2 separate regions of the Homo sapiens genome follow, and region 2 is linked to region 1. The links come from fine-mapping of genetic effects on gene expression. Tissue or cell type: fibroblasts. Region 1 holds a variant in brackets; the other region holds the start of a gene. All regions are shown on one strand. Distances are from middle to middle. Region 1 holds the start of CKMT2 (creatine kinase, mitochondrial 2). Region 2 holds the start of CKMT2-AS1 (CKMT2 antisense RNA 1).

The links.
Region 2: it holds the start of CKMT2-AS1, and the variant in region 1 is fine-mapped to the expression of CKMT2-AS1 in fibroblasts (GTEx, PIP above 0.99).

Annotation. Positions count from the first base shown.
Region 1 is chr5:81,232,925-81,235,828 of GRCh38, forward strand. It overlaps CKMT2 (creatine kinase, mitochondrial 2), which reads left to right and starts at 398. Exons shown (of 10, transcript NM_001099735.2): 1 at 398-453. The variant A/G (reference allele first, on the strand shown) is at 1,788.
Region 2 is chr5:81,299,850-81,302,753 of GRCh38, forward strand. It overlaps CKMT2-AS1 (CKMT2 antisense RNA 1), which reads right to left and starts at 1,720. Exons shown (of 2, transcript NR_034123.1): 1 at 1,438-1,720. It overlaps ZCCHC9 (zinc finger CCHC-type containing 9), which reads left to right and starts at 1,738. Exons shown (of 6, transcript NM_001131035.2): 1 at 1,738-1,849. RefSeq lists enhancers at 1,467-2,256, 1,820-1,919, 2,070-2,249, 2,257-2,904.

The sequences.
Region 1 (2,904 bases):
TGCTGGAGCCAGGCAGCTTGAGACATCCTCCTCTCCGACCTTGGCTTGAGGGGTTCATCCTCCAGAGCTCACCAGGGCCCCAAGGCTGGTACACCTGAGAGAAGAGAGAAACAAATCCCCCAACAGATGTGCAATTTCACCTGCTGGCCCTTCCATTCTGAGATCCAGAGCCCTGGCAAAGGAGCCTCCAGGACCAGGCCTGGGAAGCAAGACTGGCTCCGCCTTTTACGTTTCAGAGAAAGGGCAGGTGCTATAAAGGGCCCAGCGCCCACGGGCCTGCCTTCAAGGGTACAGCTGTGGGGGCCGGTGCGCCCGGAGGTCTACGCTGGGATTGGTGAGGTCCTCTGGCCCCGCCCCGCCAGGGAGGATTTCCAGGCCGGCCCGACCAGCTCGCCCTGCATACACTTCTTGGCTGTGTGCGCTCAGCAGGACGTGGGAGGCTCCGGCTTCAAGGTCGGTGAGTCCGTGAAACTCTGCTTTATTCCTCCAAAGAGGGGTCATGGCTAGAGCCAGTGTGAAGGGCCTTGGAGGAGTGGATGCCGGGCTGTAGACGGGGACCCCGTTAGGACGCTGACTGCGAGGAGGCAATGGTGACTCGCTAAAGCCAGCAGAGCTCCCGCCCTTGGCCGAAGCGACCCCTCCTCCCTGCACACAGGTGGGGGCAGCTCAGCACCAGGAGCAGAACAAATCAGCACGCTGCCTGCAGGGCCTCTTTTTGGTAGTGAATCAGGAATTTTTCTCGATGGAAAAAAAAATCTAAAGGCTGTATTTTGACGCTAAGTTTGGGACAACTTTAAACTTAAAGTGTCTTTCCCTTGTAATTCACAGAGTCTAATCCACTCATTTCTGGGAATGTTTTTCCCCAGCAGTCTCAGTCTCAAAAGACATGTAAATCAGTGACTTGGGATGAACTAACTAGAAAATTAAAATTTTGAGAAGCTATTTGCTCATAAGCCCAATAGCCAGGCCCAGTTTAAACGGGCAAATAGTATTGCTAGAGATTCAGTTTTGCCGTCACTAATACTAACACATTGATAATGAGACAAGTAACCGTCTCCCCTCCCCACCATCCTTACCTTTCCCACCGGAGGTTAATTAAAAAAAAAAAAAAAAAAAAAAAAACCTATGGAATTGGCCCCACGTGTTTCACCTGGGCAGAGGCCTGTTCTTCACTAGCTTGCTTGCTTGGTTGGTTGTCCCGGGGTTAAAATCAGTCCTGTTCTTGCCCCTAGAGTGGTCTGCCTTCAAATGCTCTCCTCCGAATGTGAGGAAGAGTGACATTTGACAAACAGACCAAAACCTTTAGGTCTCCTCAGTGCTGCCCTTTAGACCTTCCAGAAAGTGTTGCCAGGCTCGTGACCCCTCACAGTGTCAGCTGAGTCAAGTGAGGGGCAGTTAGTGGCCCTCAGGACAAGGTTACGCTAGGTACACCAGTGTGCTGTTTCCAGAAGGGCTGCTTTTCCTGTCTACGGCTCTCACATTTTCTCTGTTCTGAACTCGTGTCCTTGGTCTGTTCTCTCTGTCCTCTCATAGAGGCGAGCATGGCCACAGCATGTGGCCAGAGACTTCCTGACAGGCAGGCTCTTCCGGGAGGCTCTTGGCCTTGTTTGGCGGTCTGAGCACTTCACTTCCTCTGCATTGATAGGCACCTTTTCCAAAGACCCCAGACTTTGGAGTTAATCACGCCTGTGGGTTAAGGCACTGTCACAGCAAAGCACAGGAGTGCCACATGCACCCCATGGACTCTGCCAGCCTCATGACCAAATCATATCATTAGGAAATGGGCC[A/G]TAGGCAGGTCAGTTTTCCTAAGGAAACTGTGGGTTGGGTCGGGGGGAGTACCATACAGAATGGGGAGTCCTGGGGTTTCAGACACAGGAGGGAGACTGACTTTGCCCCTAGCTCAGAGGCCCTGGGCCTCCATCTCTGCCATAGCCTACAGCAGGCTCCATTTGTCTTCCCAAAGGAAGCCACGTAGAGTCTGTGTCAAGCATTCTGGGAGCTCCTGCCCACAGAGCCAGGAATCCAGCAGCAACCCATGCTGAAGGTGACTGCTGGAGGTCACACTAACCCTTGCCAGGAAGCCTCAGAGACTCCCTCCCTTGGGCGGGGAAGAAGGCAGCCCACTTCACAGCACTTCAAAGGACTAGATGGCTCCTAGCTTCCTGTTTTCTTGAAAACAATTTACCCTTGAGGGACAAAGTCTGGTAACGGTCCCATGCCTTCATCACAGGAGGCCTAGGAAAGGCCTCTGTTTTACAGAGTAGGATTCTAAATATCTCCTTCCTGCCTAGGACTGTCTATTTGCTGAGTAGAACAGTAATGCCAAGAGTGCCCATTAAGGTTGGCTGCGTACTAAGTGGTTTTGAGGTAACGCACACCCTTTGCTATCTTAGAACTGGGAGGAGACAGGCATTTTCTGCGGCCTAGGAGCCTGGCATCGTGAGAATTTGTTCAGAGTGTTCTGTGGAGCTGGTCCAAGCCCAAGGACATCCTCTGTTTTGGGGTGGCTCTCTGGATGGAAAGCTGACACGTGGTCCTCCTCCTGCCCTTCCACCTGCCCTCTGGCTGAGGAGTTCAGACACATGGACGCTGTGAATGGCTGGACCAGAAATAAATCTGAGTCAGCAGAAAGGCAGACATGGTCCATCCGGGATGCCCAGGAAGAGCAGGGGGCTCGGGCTGGAGGCAGTGACAGAACCCAAGGCCTCCTCTTCACATTCTAGGATGTCACAGAACCAGAGAAGAGCATTAAGACCAGGATCTGAACTCCCAGTATACCTGCCTGGGACCAAGAAATGTACAGCTTGTGGCCACTTAACAAAAGGGCTTGATGTAGCTGTCGTTGTTTTTTTAATGCGGAGGGCAGTGTAGGAACAAACAGGATATTATTGCTTTTGGCTCTGT
Region 2 (2,904 bases), 67 kb after region 1:
AGCTGGAAGTTGCTGTTGTTTGTTTGTTGTCTTTTAAAACTTTCTCCACCATATGAACTACGGTATTTGTGATATGTACCATACCAAATCTCAACATTCCTACAAGCACTGACTTTAAAATCCCTTCTCTTAAAGAAAACTGGGCCACTTTCTAGTTTGCTTTAAACAAACATCGCAAAGTACTTATTCTTCATTTACTTAACAAATACGAGGGCCAGGCGCGGTGGCTCACGCCTGTAATCCCAGCACTTTGGAGGGAAGAGGTGGGCGGATCGCCTAACTCAGGAGTTTGAGACCAACCTGGCCAACATGGCGATATCCCATCACTACTAAAAATACAAAATCTAGCCGGGCGCGGTGGCGGGCGCCTGTAATCTCAGCTACTTGGGCGGCTGAGGCAGAAGAATCGCTTGAACCCGGGACGCAGAGGTTGCAGTGAGCCGAGATCGCGCCATTGCACTCCAGCCTGGGCGACAAGAGCCAAACTCCTTCTCAAAAAACAAAACAAAACAAAACAAAAAAACAAATACGCAGTGAGCACCAAGGATGTACCAGGCAATGAGGATACAATAAACTTACACAATTATTGTGTAATTACAAATGTGAACCGTGTCATAAGAAAGTATAGACTGCCGTGAGCACACAGTAGGGGATTGGTCTAGTATGGGGGTAGGGGGCTGGAAGGCTTTCTTGAGAATAAAATACTTAAAGCCTTGAAGGGTGAGTAGAAAGTAACTGGAAGAAGAAAAGGAGTACCATACAAAGAGACTAGCAAATGTAAAGGCCTGGAGATGGCAAGGTACACACGGCATTTGAGAAATTGAAAAAATGATCCTATGCACGGAGCTCAAAGGAGAGACTGAGCAAGGTGAGGCTAGGGAAGTAGGCAGGGACTTCATAAGGAGTTCGAATTTCATCCTAAAACAATGGGAAGCGAAGGGAGAGTTTAAAGCAGTACAGCAGTACTGCTTTAAATGTAATGATTTACATTTTCAAAAGTTCCGTTCCTACGACACGGAAAATGGATTTCAGGGAGTTGGGGCAGAATGAATCCCCAGACCAGTTGTAGAACTACAGGTACAATATGGGACAAGGGAGGAGGTGCCAACAGAGATAAAAAGAAGTGGACAAATATTCAAAAGGTTAAATGGATTGAGCAAACTGTTGAGAGTAGTGGTCCTGGTAAATTGCATTTTTTCACTAGGCACAGCTGGTGGTGGTATCCATTTGCAAGAAGCTACAGAAAATGAGCCGTTTGGAAATCCAGGGTTTTCCTCTTAAAAAGAGAACTTGTTTGGCTACAAAGTGTTAACATTTTAATTGAATGCTCAACGAGCACTGAAGGGGGGACATGAGGCACTGCCTCTCACCCAAGAGAGCCCCCAAATGTCCTTTTCAGACTTTTATCACAGTGACCCACTCCCACCGCGCCTTTACCTTGCCTCTGCCTGGAATGTCCTTAACTCCCTCTTGCCGGCAATTTCACCAGATTTTTGATTTCTTATCCAGTCTCACGGGAAGCCTTTCCGGCATCTCCCACCCTACCGATCTTCCCGTCTATCTCGCCTGCTACACTGTGAGTTCAGACAGCACGGATTGAACTCTTCATCTTTTCGTGTCGGCGTCCTGCACAGGGCCATCCCATCACTAAGCGCGCCACAAACTCAGCCCAGTATTGACGCCCACGAGTCGCTTGTAAAGACCGTCTGTGACGCCGGAAGTGACGCGCTCTCGGGCACTATGTGCTTCCGGTCTCCAATACCGCAGGAGGGCGGTCTTCCCCGGCTCGCCAACTCGGCTGCTCTGGGGGATTCGTGCGCGGTAAGAAGCTGCGCGGTAGCGCGGTGAGGTGAGGTTCTCAGCCACCAAAGCTGCAGGGTCTCGTCGTTCGTTCCCTCTGGCCTGGCGGAACTTGCGTGGGAAGCTGGGAGGACAGAAGGCTTAGCCGCTGGGTCCCTGAGCTGGCTGGAGCGCGGGCTGTCTAGGGGCGGCGACCTCAGCTGTTGGGCTCCGGCTGCTGGGGGCTGTGCGTCCAGCCGCCCTGGAATCCGCCTGTGGGTGGGCCGCTTGGCTCTCCCACTTCACCCTCTTGATAACCCAGAGCCTCCCCCTTCCCACGTACGTAGGGGAAGGATAATCTACTTCCTTTTGAACAGCTTCGGTCCCCACTATGACAGTCGCATAAACTTCAGCGAAGAGTGCGCTGGTAAAGTGGCATGGAGTTTCTCACACCAATTCATTGGGTCCACCCTTCAGCTTCTGTGGAAGGGGTCTTTCTGTTACTAGGAGCTGAGACTTGGGGGGTTGCCAGGGATGCTGGTCTTAAAAGGTGATAATTTAGGCCGGGCGCGGTGGCTCACGCCTGTAATCCCAGCACTTTGGGAGGTCGAGGCGGGCAGATCTCCTGAGCTCAGGAGTTCGAGACCACCCTGGGCAACATGGTGAAACCCCTTCTCTACTAAAATACAAAAAATTAGCTGGGCGTGGTGGCACGCGCCTGTAATCCCAGCTATTCGGGAGGCTGAGGCCCGAGAATCGCTTGAGCCCTGGCGGCAGAGGTTGCAGTGAGCCAAGATCGCCCACTGCACTCCAGGTTGGGCTACAGAGTGAGACTCCGTCTCAACAACGACCACAACAACAACAAAAAAGGTGGTGGCTTAATACAGCCATGCTCCCCTTAAGAACTGGTATAGTTATGAGAAATGGTTGGGCCGTTTCGTGGTTGTGTGAACATCATAGTGTACTTGCACAAACCTACACAGCTGGGCCGTATGGGATAGCCTGTTACTCCTAGTCTACAGACCTGTACAGTATAACTACTAAATACTGTAGGCAGTTGTAAAAGGATGGTGTGTATCTAAACACAGAAAAGATACTGTAAAAATATAGTGTAAAAGAAAACAT